2 separate regions of the Homo sapiens genome follow, and region 1 is linked to region 2. The links come from fine-mapping of genetic effects on gene expression. Tissue or cell type: whole blood. Region 2 holds a variant in brackets; the other region holds the start of a gene. All regions are shown on one strand. Distances are between the middles of the regions.

Region 1 (8,205 bases), 39 kb before region 2:
TAGTATTCTGAGATAAGGAGGAAATAGCCAGAACAGCCCAGGCTGTGTTCTAGCCTCACTAAAAACAAGATGTCCTTCAATGCTTTTACGGCTTTTCCCAGCTAGAATACAAGTGGGCATGCACAGACGAGACTCGATCTGCACCGTGTGGCTTTCCTGAGTCTTGAGAGACCAGCTCATGTTGAATCCTAGGTTTCTGCTGTCCCTTGCTGCTTCTCTGTGAGTAATAAATCCACTTCATGTAACTTGTGTATGTGAGTGTTCTGGCTCACCAGACTCGGGCAGGTAGTAGAAGTACAGCCCAAGATGCAGTGAACTGAATTGGTAACCAGTGCACAGTAAACACACTTTGAAGAACCCAGCAGGTTGCTGAATATTTGAATCGGATGTTAGGTAGAAAAGTCTGACCCAGAAATACAGAATTTAGGCTGAGCGTGGTGGCTCACACCTGTAATCCCAGCACTTTGGGAGGCCGAGGTGGGCAGATCACCTGAGGTCAGGAGTTCGACACCGGCCTGGCCAACATGGCGAAACCCCTACTAAAAACACAAAAATTAGCCAGGTGTGGTGGCCTGCGCCTGTAATCCCAGCCACTCACGAGACTGAGGCAGGAGAATCGCTTGAACCCAGGGGCAGAGGTTGCAGTGAGCCAAGATCGTGCCACTGCACTCCAGCTTGGGCAACAGAGAGAGACTCCATCTCAAAATAATAATAATAAAATAAAATAAATAAAAGAATTTAGACTCAGGCTACAGATGATGATAATATGTCAGAAAAATTATGAAAGATTTTGAAATAGTCAAAAGAGGTTACTGGGTGAACTTTCTGTGGAGTGCTGTGCATTTTTAAAAGACTCTCTGGGGGCCGGGAGTGGTGGCTCATGCCTGTAATCCCAGCACTTTGGGAGGCCGAGGCGGGCAGATCATGAGGTCAAGAGATCGAGACCATTCTGGGCAACATGGTGAAACCCTGTCTCTACTAAAATTACAAAAATTAGCTAGGCATGGTCGTGTGCACCTATAGTCCCAGCTACTCGGGAGGCTGAGGCAGGAGAATCGCTTGAAGCCGGGATGTGGAGGTTGCAGTGAACTGAGATCGCGCCACTGCACTCCAGCCTGGCGACAGAGCGAGACTTCGTTTCAAAAACAAAAAATCCCCTGGGTCATTTGCCGTAGGAGGGATGTACCTCTGCCTTTGAGTATGCTATTTTACAACTCTGTAGAGATAGAAATTAACTTATAGAAGATAGTAATGCAAATGTTCCCTGCCCACAACAATGAAAACTATTCCTGTCCACAGCAATGCAAATCAATTTTGTGTGATAGAGAATATGTCACTATAAATCAAATTCTCCTTAGAACCAGTCTGAACATCCCTCCTGGTCGTAGGGATTAATTAAAATCAATGAATGAGTTAAGTAAGATCTTTGGCACATGTTCATTTTATATTTGCATGAAGGCCATAATTTTACCTTTTGAAACACTTTAACAGTTTTGAAGCTTTCACCAACATCCCAATGGATTCACCTGACAGAACCAGGTAAACCACATTACTGAAGAACACCCCATGGGGCTAAGCCCAAGCACATTTTTTCCTGGCTCCGGGAGTGAATACCAAGTAGCAATAGTACTACAGCGTTGCTGACTTTCTCCCTAGGTTTCTTTCTCCTCCTTACTGATTTTGGGTTTTGTTTCTGATTCGCCCACAGCTGGCGGATTTTTCCCCATGAATGGCGACACCAATTAGGAACTCGCGGGAAACCCCGTTGCTCCCTTTCCCCTGGCTGGCAGCGCGGAAGCCGCACGATGCCTGGAGTTCCTGTAAACCACGTGAACCAGCGGGACTTCGTCAGAGCTCTGGCAGCCTTTCTCAAAAAGTCCGGGAAGCTGAAAGTCCCCGAATGGGTGGACACCGTCAAGCTGGCCAAGCACAAAGAGCTTCCTCCCTACGTTGAGAACTGGTTCTACACACGAGCCGGTTCCACAGCGCGGCACCTGTACCTCCAGGGTGGCGCTGGGGTTGGCTCCATGACCAAGATCTATGGGGACGTCAGAGAAACGGCGTCATGCCCAGCCACTTCGGCCGAGGCTTCAAGAGTGTCCTCCGCCGGGTCCTCCAAGCCCTGGAGGGGCTGAAAATGGTGGAAAAGGACCAAGATGGGGGCCGCAAACTGACACCTCAGGGACAGAGAGATCTGGGCAGAATTGCCGGACAGGTGGCAGCTGCCAACAAGAAGCATTGGAACAAACCATGCTGGGTTAATACATTGCCTCATTCAGAAAAAAAAAAAAAAATTAGGAACTAGGTTTTACATTCTGAACATTTGGTGATCTCTTTAAGTGAATTAATAGTTTTTAGAGATCTATTCTCTTTTGGATAAGAGATGATGAAAAATCTGGTTTGTTAGTCTTTTTGTTTGTTTGCCTTTTTGTCTACTTATGAGTTCAAATCAGTTAAGACTTCCATGCCCATTGGGAAGGAGAACAGCTTTTTGTTATCTAGTCCACTGAATTTTTATGTTTCTGAATTTACTTTCGACCTGTGGCCAAAGTTGCAGAACCAAAGCTATATGCTATGTGTCTATGTGTCTTCCCGGCTGTAATCAACAAAGGCCTTCCCCTCTTGTTGTGGGAGTAAAAAAATCTTACTACCTTTGTAAAGTTTTAATAAGTTATATTATTTCATGTCTTAAAGGAGCTCTGTTATAATTCACTTATGGAAACAAACACATGTAAATCAATTATTTCTAAAATTCCAGAAAATAAGTAAATTAAACTTATGCATGCAAAATTTCTTAAAAATGCTGAAACCATCCTGACAGGGTTAACAAGATTACAAGCCAGCCTTTAGGCAGGTTAGTTAGGCACTGACCAGGGTGCATTGGTGCCCTTCAATTCACTTCCCTGCAGCTGCTAACTAACCAAAAGCCTTGCAGCACACTGATCACCTACTCCCTGATTGCTCCTATCCACAGAATCTCTGACACTAGCTCTTTGTACCCAGGAATTGCTTAAGGTATTTTTCAGATCCTGAATTCCCACAAAACAGCTGATGCCAAACTGTCTAGGGATCCCCACCAGGAAGGGCACAGTGGCTCACGCCTGTAATCTTAGCACTTTGGGAGGCCAAGGTGAGAGGATCGCCTGAAGCCCGGAGTTTGAGACTAGCCTGGGCAACAAAGTGAGACCCTGCTTTACAAAAAAAAAATTTTTTTAAATAAATAAATAAAGACCTCCACCAAGAAACAACACTGGAATGAAGTTTCTTCATCTCCCTGTCCCATGACTTCACCTCTCACTTCCTGACCAATCAGAAATCCCCACACTTTAGCCCATTGCCCCTCCAGACTTCTTAAAAATGCCATCTCTAATCTCTTGGGGAGGTGGATTTGAGGATTGCTCTTGTCTCCTCATTTGGCTGCCACTTGATTATGGAACTCTTTATCTGCTGCAACTCCTATTCTTTCTGTTACCGCACAATGGACAATCGAACCTGATGGTCCTATAACAATCTTTCTTACAGAAATTGCTAGTACAGAAAGAATCCAGGTTCAAATAATCAAGGCAAATCTTTGGCGAATAATATTAAGTTTTGGTTAAAAAAAATCCCAGCTATGTCTTTTCTCAGTGTTAAGTATTATACATGTGTACATTTTGAGTTTGTTTCCTTACCGAGAATAATTAATCTGAACTTCCTAAATTTATAAAAGTTTACTATTGATAAGCTAATATTAACATTACATTGTTTAAGATCCTGAAAAATGTGAATTTGTTCAACAAAACTGAATCATTCTCACATTTAACAGTAATTGTTTCTTTGTGCCTTAAACTATTAATAATTTCTATGATCTGTAGATAACTTAAAACTTAGTATTAAATTGAGCTAATTAATGGATACTTCTTGGATGCCTAGATATGTTCTTGCATAATTTTATGTTTACATCGTTTTGCTTATTTTTATATGCTACAGAGACTACAACTCTGAGTCACAGTAATGATGTGTTCATGTTTGCCACTTGTCAGCGTGTGTAAAAATGGTTGTGGTGGCTTTATACAGTTGTGTTCTATCGCGCCTTTTGCAGCAACATGGATGCATCTGGAGGCCATGATCCTAAAAGAATTAACGCAGAAGCAGAAAACCAAATACATGTTCTCACTTGAAAGTGGGAGCTAAGCATTGGGCACACATGGACACAAAGGTGACATTAATAGACGCTGGGGACTACTAGAGTGGGGAGGGAGGCAGGGAGGGGCTGAAAAACTTGGGTACTATGCTCAGTATCTGGGTGACCAGCTCATTCGAATTCGAAACCTCATAGCCAGGTAACAAATACGCAGTGTACCCCCTAAATCTAAACGTTGGAATTATTTTTTAAAAGAAAGTTATGTTCCATGTATTTCTAAGCTTACTCTCCTAAAATGGTTGAATATTACAGTTCTCAATTATTTATCTCCATGTAGAAGGATGACAGGGACTGTGCGCTAGTGCCAGCCTCCGCTGAGAGCGCCAAGACATTACAGCAAGCGACGGTAGGAGAGCTTGTAACGTGAAGCACCACCACACCTCTGTACTTCAAACTTAACCACAGAGACCGACTCCCAAACCAGCAAGTGCGTAAGCGCCGCCGCGCTCACCACCCGCCCCGCCCCTTCCGCATGCTAATGCCTTCTTCCGGCAGCCTTAGTTTCTTCCAACCAGTGCAGCTCCCTGTTCCGCGAGCATACGTCATCGTTCTCGCTTTCCGGTAGCTAAGGCGATCAGCGGGACTTCCCACTGAGACGAGCGGATGTCATATTGTATCAGGGCGAACCTCTGAGGAGCGCTGGCTGCGCTTAGGCAACGGTGCGGCAGGCGCCGGGGTTTTCTGAAACAGAAACGTTTAGGGGTGGGGAAACGTGTTCCGAGGAACTCTCGTTTTGAAGTGCGACATACACCTGTCTTGCCCTGTTCCAAGATGGTGGCAGAGCTTCTCTGAGTCTCTCGCTTCCTCCAGTCCGTCGGAGAAGCGCTCTTTGATTGGCCAGTGGACAGCGCCGTGGCATGACGCGCTGGGGCGCTGGCCAATCGGTTGAGAGCTGAGCTGGACTTGGCGGTGGGAGCCGGAGCCTGCTTGTTGCAGCTGTGGGTGAGGACGGCTCTAGCTAGGTGAGCGGCTCCGGCCAGGTGAGCGGGGCGCATAGGTGACGGAGGGCCGAGGGCACGGGTATGAGTTTCTGCCGGGGGCGAGGTGAGCGGCTTCTGGGAGGAGGCCTTTTCTTGACAGTTTAGGGTAGCGGGGGAATGGATGATCCGGGAGTCCCCTGCGGATGTCGTCCCGCACCAGGCCGGGACCGATTTCTGGCTCCAGTTTCCCCAGAATTGCGGAGTGCGCACACCTGGAAGGACCCAAGTCCCGTTTTATAGTTGAGAAACTCAAGACTCAGACAAGTGAAACGACTTTTGCTTCATGACAGCTGGAACTGGAACCCAGGTCCTTGGACTCCCTTCAAGGATTAAACCTCACTTATTCTTACATACACATGGTCACTGTGTCCTGAGAAGTTACGAGTTGGCGCGATAAGGGTGGTTCAGATTTTTTGGCATATTCTCCTGTTATCTTTCCAGGCCTTTCATTCATTCACTAATTCATACTTTCAGTTATTTACCTCTTCAGATACCTTCCCCGATACTTTGGTAAAAGCTATGGACCCATCTCCCTAGAAAAACGGCATATTCCCTCATGCGCATAACTTCAGATGATTAGTGGACCTTCTATAGTCCCCTTGGATTATGTGTCCACTGCTAAGAATCCAGACCCTAGAAGGGTGAGGGAAACAGGCAGTAGGAAAAGGAGGGAGCAGGTCTTAGGCTGTACATGCTTGGAAACCATTAGATGGAGGCAGTAGCTTCTTTTTTTTTTTTTTTTTTTTTGAGATGGAGTCTCGCTCTGTCGCCCAGGCTGGAGTGCAGTGGCGTGATCTCGGCTCACTGCAACCAATGCCTCCCAAGGTCAAGCAGTCCTCCCTGCCGCAGCCTCCCGAGTAGCTGGGATTACAGGCACCTGCCACCACGCCCAGCTAATTTTTGTATTTTTAGTAGAGACGGGGTTTTGCCATGTTGGCCAGGCTGGTCTTGAATTCCTGACCTCAGGTCATCCACCGGCCTCGGTCGCCCAAAGTGCTGGGATTACAGGCGTGAGCCACCGCGCCCGGCCGCCAGTGCCTTTTAATAAAGAACGTTTTGAGAGAGAGACGGTTATTTAATGAAATCTGCTGACATACTTGCTGAGAGTTGTGATAGAACTTGCTTTCATTCCGACTTTAGTTATCCCTTTGCTTCCCATGAAGCTCCAGAGTGCTTCCTGTGCACACAGTGCTTCAGGTTCTTGCCGTTGCCAGAAATAAACAGATTTCTTAGAGTTTCAGTTGGAGCAAACATTGGAATTCTTGTGTTCTGGGCTTTATGTAGTAGAGTAATTCATTTGCTTTTCTAGCCATGCAATATTATTGCCTTAATCAAAATTATTTACAGTATGGTACTTCCCAAAATAACAGACAGTTGTTATCCATATTCAGGAAGTGGGCGCGAGAGGCCACTTTAATTTGATAGACTCTTTAATTTGCCTTTTTACTACTTTTCTTGAGGGGCTTGTTCCCTTGAACCCCAATAGCTGAGTTGTGTGTTACCCTAGATTTTAGGATATGAACAGGATGTATAAATACTCAATGAAGTTGGGATCATCTGGGTTTGAGAGTTTAGCCTGTAGGACAGTTTTACTGACCACAGTCTTCATTTTTTTTTTGAAACAGAGTCTGGCTCTGTCGCCCAGGCTGTGCAATGGCATTGTCTCGCCTCACTGCAATCTCTGCCTCCCGAGTTCAGACGATTCTCCTGCCTCAACCTCCTGAGTAGCTGGGACTATGGGCACGTGCCACCACACCTGGCTAATTTTTGTATTTTTAGTAGAGACGGAGTTTCACTGTGTTGGCCAGGCTGGTCTTGAACTCCTGACCTCGTGATCCGCCCATCTCAGCCTCCCAAAGTGCTGCGAGTATAGGTGTGAGCCACCACACCTGGCCTTGACCACAGCCTGTCAAGGCATGAACATAAGCAACCGTGGTGAGGAAAGAGGTTCTGGTGAGACTCAGCATAATAGTAATTTTGGTAATACCAAGTAGAAATAATTTAGCTCAAAACTGGTTCCCATTATGAACCAAACTTGAAGATCAGTATCCAGCTCTTTTCTCCAAAGTTAACAAAGTGCGGAAGGGAATGAGCACCCCCCCGCTACTGAAAAAAAAATCACTTGGAATGTAAAATTTAATAGAGGAAGAAAGGAAGGAGATTAGAGAGGAAGATAGTTGGATGCCGAAACAGGGTTCAAGACTTACCCTTGAGCAAGGGGCTGAAATTGGCTTGACTGATAGGACGTGTGATCTGTGAGGAGGTTTGAAGTAGTAGTGTTTAACTACATGTAGTTTGGAGATGATCAGGTGATTGTAAACCTCCCACTCCTTTGATTTATTTTTAAGTGCTTGAAAGGAGAGGTGAGAAAGGAGCAGTGATCAATGATAACTGTGCGGTTAACTGACTTTTGGGTATCAGATGGAAAAGAAATACTGTCATTCTACAGCAACAGGTTCTTCCCAAGTATTTAAGAAACACTGTGTTAGTTGGGCCGGGTACAGTGGGTCACGCCTGTAATCCCAGCACTTTGGAAGGCCAAGGCGGGTGGATCACCTGAGGTCAGGAGTTTGAGACCAGCCTGGCCAACATGGTGAAACCCTGCCTCTACTAAAAATACAAAAAATTAGCCGGGCTTGGTGGCACAGGCTTGTAATCCCAGCTACTTGGGAGGCTGTGGCAGGAGAATCGCTTGAACCCGGGAGGTGGAGGCTGCAGTGAGCTGAGATGGGAAAAAAAGAGAAACACTGTGTTACATGACCCATCTTCTTTTTTTGACATTTAGTTCAGAATTTCACATACCATTAAGGTAATTAAAGTTTTATCTTCAGTTCCCTTTTAGACTATGGCGACATACCTGGAGTTCATCCAGCAGAATGAAGAACGGGATGGTGTGCGTTTTAGTTGGAACGTGTGGCCTTCCAGCCGGCTGGAGGCTACAAGAATGGTTGTACCCCTGGCTTGTCTCCTTACTCCTTTGAAAGAACGTCCAGACCTACCTCCTGTACAATATGAACCTGTGCTTTGCAGCAGGCCAACTTG
Region 2 (8,205 bases):
TTGCTGCATTTCAAAACAAGCCTCAGTCATCCATGTATTTCATGCCTAAACACTTCAGTAGGTGTATCATTAACTTAAGTTCAGTATTGAACGTAGTTCTTCAACTTTTTTGGAGATAAGGTTATATGCAGTGAAATGTGCAAATCCTAAGTGTGCCCTTCAAAATGTGTCAAGAACCTTCCTGTCATTGCTGTGTCAGTCATTTTAGAAGAGTACAGTGGGCTCTGTGACCGTGTTTGAGTTGCGCCTATAACAGACAAGGTTATGGCCTCTCATCCTACAGCACAACACCCCGATCCCCCAAGGAGGCAGAGGAGCCATCCAGTTTGTCACGCATTATCAGCACTCCAGCACCCAGAGACGCATCCGCGTGACCACCATCGCCCGAAAGTAAGCAGCCCCAGTTTCCTTTCTGTTGAGGAACTGACTGACATTTTTCCCTTGAAGAGATACTTTAACATTTGTTAGTTTGTCTTTTTGATTCCATTGAATGGTTCTCACCAGACCTCATTAGCTTATTTGATCAGAGGAGGAGGCATTTTTGGCTAACCCAGTTGGGCCTATGAACACTTGCCTAGAGGAATCATCTTTCTGTAGGAAATATAGTTCATTAAAAGTATTAATTATTATTATTATCATCTGGAGACAGTCTCGCTCTGTTGCCCAAGCTGGAGTACAGTGGCACAATCACAGCTCACCACAGCCTCAACCTCCCATGCTCAAGTGATCCTCCCACTTCAGCCTCCCAGGTAGCTGGGACCACAGGCACCTGCCACCAAAACTAGCTAATCTTTTTACTTTTATGCAGAGAGATGGTGATCTCACATTGTTGCCCAGGCTGGTCTTGAACTTCTAGGCTCAAGCAGTCCTGCCACCTTGCCCTCCCAAAGTGTTGGGATTTCAGGAATGAGCCACTGCACCTAGCCTGTGTTTCTTTTTCTGAATGGATGTCTGGCTTTCTGATCTCTCCTAAACATAAGCATGGCACTAACTCTGGAATTGTCAGTTGGGCAGATGTACAGAGTCAGCTCAGGCACATAGAAGCAGCATTTGACCAGGAGGCTGCGGCAGTGTTGATGGCACGGCTTGGGGTGTTCCGAGCGGAGTCAGAGGAGGGGCCCGATGTGCTCCGGTGGCTGGACCGACAACTCATCCGACTGGTAAATTGGGGACAGTGGCATTAGGTTCAGTCTTGGTTTCTGCTTTACTTTCGAGAAGAAAATTGTCACTTAATTATTATTATATAGTGAATCAGCAAGAATTTATCAGTTGCCTACCTTATGCTGCACGCTGGACATTCTGTTAAAGACGTGTTAAATGTGCATTTTCCCCTCAGAGATTTACATTATAGTTGGGAAGAAACAACACGCATGGAGCATTTGGAGAGTGATACAAATCTGTGTGGGTTGAGTTGACTTAGATGAGTCATTTTGTGAATGCTCTGGTCTTGTATTTTTCTTCTAAATCTGGAAAGTGGTTTTGGAAATAGGGATCCAGCCTGGTAAGTTTAGGGAGATGCCTTTTATCAGTCTGGATTTAATGAGATGAGAGAAGTCACACTGTAATTTAAATGGGGAAAGTCTTTTATAAAGAATACAACAAGAGAGTAGAACAGTGAGGGACTGGCTAGAAGGAAGTATAGAGAAGTGGGCAGCCACTACTTGTGGGGCTGAGATAGAGCACCAAAGGAAGTGCCCTTCTCCCCAGGGCTGATCCAGACCTAGTTGGGAGGGCATGGCCATGGCTTGGTGAGTCTTTTGCAGAGAAGTTACCGTGGTGCTGTGCCAGGGGAACTTACTAGAAATTCACTTTCTAGAATTTGAAGAAAATCCACCCTCCAGGGTGCCAGGGAAAGCTGTGTATAGGAAAATGTCTCACTGGAGACATGCAGGGATGCTGCTTAGCTGCTGGCTGCCATGTTCTCCAGGAGCTCAGCACTGGGGAGCCACGGTGCAGCAGGACCTGGCACCCGGGAAGCTGCTGAATGAGCACTCGGGCGCCCAAAGCTGACGCTCACCTCCAGCACTCTCTACTGACAACGCTTGATATCGTGCCAGCTGGCAAAGGAGAGGTAGTGAAAGGGCCCATGTCCATTTCACAGCAGGCAAAGGGGGTGAGTTTGGAGCCAGCACAAGGCAATAAATCAATAATTGGCACATGATAATCTTACCTTCCTGGAGAGTCACAGCATGTGTTTGTGATCAAAGCCACCATGGAAAGGCCCAGTAGGGAAACCTGTTTCATTTTGTTCAGCCCTCTATTTGCCCTTGCCATCTCATGGAACCATTTTTCAGGAAGTGTCAACATTTCAAACATAATTTGAAAATTGCTTCTTTAGGATTTCAGAGGGAGGATAGATAAGCAGAGGGCCCAGGTGGCTAACAAAGACTTCCTGTGGAAATGAGCCTTGAGTCAGGTTTTTATTACAGAATTAATTGGAGAAGGGAAGGCAAGGCTTGCTGAGTGGAGGGCTAGCAGGAATGAGCCTGCAGGAGCTAGCTGGGTCTTTTAGCTTATGCTGAGGACTTTGGAGAAACCAGTGTCACAGGAGGCTAGGTTGTGCAGTGGGGAACAGAGTCAGGGAAGGTACACCTTGATTGGGGAGCTCCTTAACTTTAGGGAGCAAGGGAGACGTGGCTGTGATTGTTAAGCGGGGGTTTGATGTCAGCATGATGCTTGTGTTTACATTTAATATCACCATGTGAGGCACATTGCAGAGAGAAAAGGCTATTGTTGTGAATGGAGGATTTTTCAGGCTCAATGGCACTGAGACCAGCATAGTGGCAGGAGAGATGGAGGAAGCAGAAGGTTTGAAATCAGGATGTAAACTGAAAGAATTGATAAAACTTGATGAAATGATTCTGTGTAAAGTCAAAAACCAAAAAGTCAGCACTGAATGACATTTCACACATGGGTAACTGCATGAGTGGTGTTGAGGTAGAAGATGGGAAAGGAGAGCAACTTTAGGGTGGGAGAAAGTTTTTTCTCTTTTTTTAATGTAATAGTTTATTTTTGATAATTTTTGATAATTGAATGTGAACTTGCAAAAGTGTGTCTCACGAAAACTCCCATATTTGGGTGGATGTCCTGACTGGGGCTCAGGCTATAGGTCAGCACTGGACACTGGAGGGTGGATTTGGATGACACCCATCTGGCTCTAGTGTTCATTTGTACCCAAAGCAGTGAGGATGGGAGGAGGGGGCCAAGAACTAACCCCCAAGGAGTCCACAGTTAGGGGGAGGAGGAAGACAAAACCATTGAAGAAGGCAGAAAAGGGTTGGTTGGAGAGATTATGAGAAATAGGAAAGTGATGTATTAGCAGCTGAAGGAGAAAGTTTCGAGACATTTGGGCAGTCACCTGGCTCATGCTGCTAGGAAGTTCAAGAAGACGAGAACTG[C/T]GGAAGGACACCAGATTTTGTGGGAAGAAAGTAATTGTTAGAAATGGGGTTTCTTTAAATGATGAACAGTCCAATTCTTTAGTGACCAGAAATGTGTGAGCAGAAATAAAGGCGGGAAGAGAAAACATTGTGGTTCAGAAGTCTGCCATTGGGAGAAATAAATTTGAGTTTTAGTGTGAGAGAACATCAAAGCGTAACTATAATTGTTAGTTTTCATGGTGTTAGAGGGTTTTCATATGGAACAGGTGCCTGGAAGAGCTCACCTAGCTTCTCTGGTTAGGGCAGTCCTCAGGCCAGCATTGCCTGAGAGCTGATTAGAGATGCAGAATCTTCAGCTCCTCCCTAGAGTCTGCATTTTAACAAGATCCCCTGGTCATTTGCCTGCTCACTGATGCTTGAGAAGTGCTAGTCTAGGACTTATAGTAAGTGGCAGAGTTCAGACTGGATGTAGCTTAGTCCAGGAATATTTCCAGGTAATGCTAACTTAGATTTTTCTCTCTCTTTTTGTGTGTGTTTGTTTGTTTTTTGGTATTTTCTTTCCATAGTGTCAAAAGTTTGGACAGTATAACAAAGAAGACCCCACTTCTTTTAGGTTATCAGATTCCTTTTCTCTATATCCTCAGGTAAGTAATGTATGTTTCTAAAATAACTACAGAGCAATAAATTTTGATAGAAATTAACTTTATTCTTAGGGTAAAGTGAAGACTTTTTAATGTGTTGAGACTCAGTCTGTAGGTGACAGAGATTGTTCAACCCAAGTCGAATATGTGTCTAGGCAAGACAGCACCCTACGCCCTACAGAAGATAGAGATGACATGCAGAGGGGAGAAAACTCATGCATACATTTTCATGAACAGGCAAAATAGGATCATTGATATAAGGCCGTAAAAAATATCTCTCATGTGTAGAAGTTCTGGGGAAACAGCTACCTCAGCAACAAACCAAGAAAATGAGCACACATGGAGATGAAGATAACAAAACAAAACCACAGTTAGTACAACAAATATTTAATAATATGTCTGTGGTTATTATGTGCATCATAACCAGGAGTGAGCAATAAGCAGCTCCTGAAAGTAACTGCACTCTGCATGAACCAAGCCTTTGGAAGCCATTGGACAAGAGAGAGGAGCAGGAGAAGTAGATGAATTTCCGTCTCCATTGTAACTTAGGAAATAGAGCACAATTCATGGGTGTCTATAAGGATTACAGGAGCTGAGGCCAACTGAGTATTAAATATTTAGCACAATGCCAGTAACCTGTTCAGCACTAAATGTGACCTAGCTCCATAGCAGGTGCCTGGGACTCTGAGGTGTCCATGTGCCAGAGGTTAAAGCTGTGTGGTGTTGTGAGAAGAGCCCTGGACCGGCCAGAGTCAGGTTGAGGTTCCAGTGCTGGCTCCGCAGGGGCTGACCTTAGAGGAGGTTCCAAAGCCCCGTAGAGTTTGGTTTCCCACCTCTAGCAGTGGGGAGTTGGTCTGGTGAAGTGGTTTGCAGTTTTTTTTTTTTTTTTTTTTTTTTTTAAAGCCATGGAATCCTTTCTTTGAGAGGAGCTGCCCTTAAAAGCCAGCACATAAAGCAGACAGAGTTGGTGCTTCTCTGGTTGTGCCTGTGTACCACCCCCACACTGGGTCCCACCAGAGCCCTCATCCCTGGGCCCCTGAGGACTTGATGAAGACTCTAAGAGCACAGCTTGAAAACCAGATGAAATGCTTTCTCAGATTCCTTCTGTCAAGGCATTCTAGGAAAGAGGCCAACAGCCCAGTCTCTAGAGCCAGGCGGCCAGGTGTAGAGTCCAGCTGTGACACTCAGTAGTGGGGTGACCTTGGACAAGTTGCTCGCCCCTCTGTGCCTCAGTTTCCTCACCTGTAAACTAGGGATGGTAAGAGAACTTACCTCATGGGCTTATTGGAAGGATTAAATAGTTCTTGTCAAGTGCTTTGTGACTTGCATGTAGGATGTATTAGATGTCAGCCTTGATTATTATTTAGGAACCTATGATTGAATATTTGGAGTCTCAGGAAGCTTTACACTTCACAAGGCAGCTCATTTTCGTGTTCTGGCAACTCTTTAATGTGAGCTGAAAGTCTGCCCCCACCCCTTCTTCTCATCCTCGAGGGCGAGAACCTATGGTTGCAGTGTCATCCCTTGTCCCTTTCTCCCCTGCACCAACACTTCACCATCCCAGCTTGTGTCCTGAGCTGTCATCTGCTGTTCCTGTGCCTGGAATCCCCTTCCCCCTGGCCCTGTGGCCTCCTCAGCCACGTCTCTCAGGGTGCACTGTCAGTCCCCGGAGCTCTAGGAAGTCTCCTCCTGGCCCTCCACCCCCACTCCCCACTGCTATCCTGTACTCTGGCTCATAACTCGTAGCCCGAGTGTGCCTTTCTCACTGGGCCTGACTTCTGAGAGCAGATATTCTGTCTCCACTGCCTGGCACAGTGACTCTGGAAATAAACATTTCTTTGGCTTTCCTCTTAACTGTGGAAGCTTTGACATACCCAGAGGCCCTTTTCTTAAAAAAATTTTGTATTTTTTTAAAAATTTTTAATTTTTAATTTTTTTGAGACGGAGTTTTGCTCTTGTTGCCCAGGCTGGAGTGCAATGGCCTGATCTCAGCTCACCGCAACCTCCCCCTACTGGGTTCAAGTGATTTTCCTGCCTCAGCCTCCTGAGTAGCTGGGATTACAGGCGCCCACCACCACACCCGGGTAATTTTGGATTTTTAGTAGAGACGGGGTTTCTCCATGTTGGTCAGGCTGGTCTTGAACTCCCGACCTCAGGTGATCCGCCCGCCTCGGCCTCCCAAAGTGCTGGGATTACAGGCGTGAGCCACCACGCCTGGCCAAAGGCCCTTTAAAAAAAAAAATTAATTTTTAATGTGGTAAAACACACATAACAAAATTTACCATCTTAACCATTTTTAAGCATACCGTTGAGTAGTGTTACGTGTATTCCCATTATTGAGCAACTGATGTCTAGAATTTTTCACTTTGCAGAGCTGAAACTCTGTGCTCATTAAGCAACAACTCTCAGTTTTCCTCTTTCCCTAGCCCCTGGTGCCCCCTTATGCTTTCTGTTCTGTGAAACCAGAGAGCCCTTTTCTGGGTTCTCCTATTTCAGAGCCCTGAGGTAGATCTACTCTGTGGGTGTCTAAGAAGGTTACAATTATATGCATTTCTCTTTCCGTTCTTTGTGAATGCAGTTTATGTTCCATCTGAGAAGATCTCCATTTCTTCAAGTGTTTAACAACAGTCCTGATGAGTCGTCATATTACAGACATCATTTTGCCCGGCAGGACCTGACCCAGTCCCTCATCATGATCCAGCCCATTCTCTACTCTTACTCCTTTCATGGGCCACCAGAGGTGAGGCTCTACCCAAATGCTTTCCTGAGGATTGGAATCACCTAACATATATTCTTTTTTAAGCAAATTTACTTAGCAGAACTGTAAAAAAGAAGTAAAATTTGGAGTTTTTATAGTAATTTAACATTATTTCTATTAAAAAATACCTTTAGGAAAATGTCAAAGGACATATAAAGCTATTATTTGTGAAAGGCAGGAATAAATGTAAAAAACTCTAGGAAATAACTTGGATGCTTTCTTTTTCCTTGTGCTTGTATACTTACATCCAACAATTCCATGTCTTGTATCTGAAGGAAAGACTCCTAGATACAGAGTAGACTTTGTGCCAAAAAAAAAAATAGTAAAGGAACTACTATAATAGAGGATCAAATAACAATCCGAATGTTTAATATAGGAAAATAAATAAGTAACCTGAGAAATGCAGTTGACCCTCAGTATTCATGGAAGATTGGTTCCAGGACCTCCCTCAGATACCAGAATTCTTAGATACTCAAGTTACTAATATAAAATTACATAATATTTGCATGTAACCTTGGCACATCCTCCTATATACTTTAAATCATCTCTAGATTAGTTATAATACCTAATATAATGTAAGTACCATGTAAATAATTGTCATACTGTATGGTTTAGGGAATAATGACAAGAAAACAAGTCTGTACATGTACAGTACAGATGCATATTTTTTTCAAATATTTTCAGTCCAAGATTGGTTGAATTTATAGATGTGGAACCCACCGATACGGAGGGCCAACAGTATTCACAAAAAGTATGTAACATAATAAAATAGATAAGTCCTTATGTAAAAATGTTACATGAAAAAAAGTCAAAATAGAAACGTTTCTAAATATTCCCTGCAAAAATAAAGAACTATATGGAAAAAAACAAAATATCAATATTTGTTGTACTTGGGTACACATTTAAAAATTTTCTTTATCGAGTACCACTTACTTTTATTATTGAAATAATTACTAAAATAGCAGGGGGATCACATGACATCAGGAGTTTGAGACCAGCCTGGCCAATGTGGCGAAACCCCATCTCTACTAAACATACAAAAATTAGCTTGGAATGGCGCCAATAATCCCAGCTACTTGGGAGGCTGAGGCTGGAGAATCACTTGAACCCCGGAGGCGGAGGCTGCAGTGAGTTGAGATCGCGCCACTGCATTCCAGCCTGGGCAACAGAGCAAGACTCCCTCTCAAAAAATAAAAATAAAAAAGAAATAATTACATATATAAAAATTATATGTGTATATGTAAATATAATAAATTATATATGTATATATAAGAACTATGTATATAAATATATATGTATATGATTATATATGTATATATAAATATAAATTATATACTTATATAATATAAAATATTACTTACAAATAAATAATAAACGTATTTTTTTTTGAGATGGGGTGTCTGTCACCCAGGTTGGAGTACAGTTGTGC

Evidence for each region. PIP is the estimated chance that this variant, and not a neighbour inherited with it, causes the effect.
Region 1: SEC23B starts here. The variant in region 2 is fine-mapped to the expression of SEC23B in whole blood (TOPMed, PIP 0.99).

Annotation. Positions count from the first base shown.
Region 1 is chr20:18,502,828-18,511,032 of GRCh38, forward strand. It overlaps SEC23B (SEC23 homolog B, COPII component), which reads left to right and starts at 5,113. Exons shown (of 20, transcript NM_006363.6): 1 at 5,113-5,145; 2 at 7,995-8,205. The coding sequence starts at 8,009. It also overlaps the pseudogene RPS19P1. RefSeq lists enhancers at 4,654-4,983, 5,334-5,383.
Region 2 is chr20:18,542,013-18,550,217 of GRCh38, forward strand. SEC23B (SEC23 homolog B, COPII component) reads left to right here. Exons shown (of 20, transcript NM_006363.6): 13 at 284-390; 14 at 1,007-1,160; 15 at 3,944-4,021; 16 at 6,597-6,758. Among named protein-coding and RNA genes, the nearest start is that of SMIM26, 21 kb to the right of the region's middle. The variant C/T (reference allele first, on the strand shown) is at 3,399.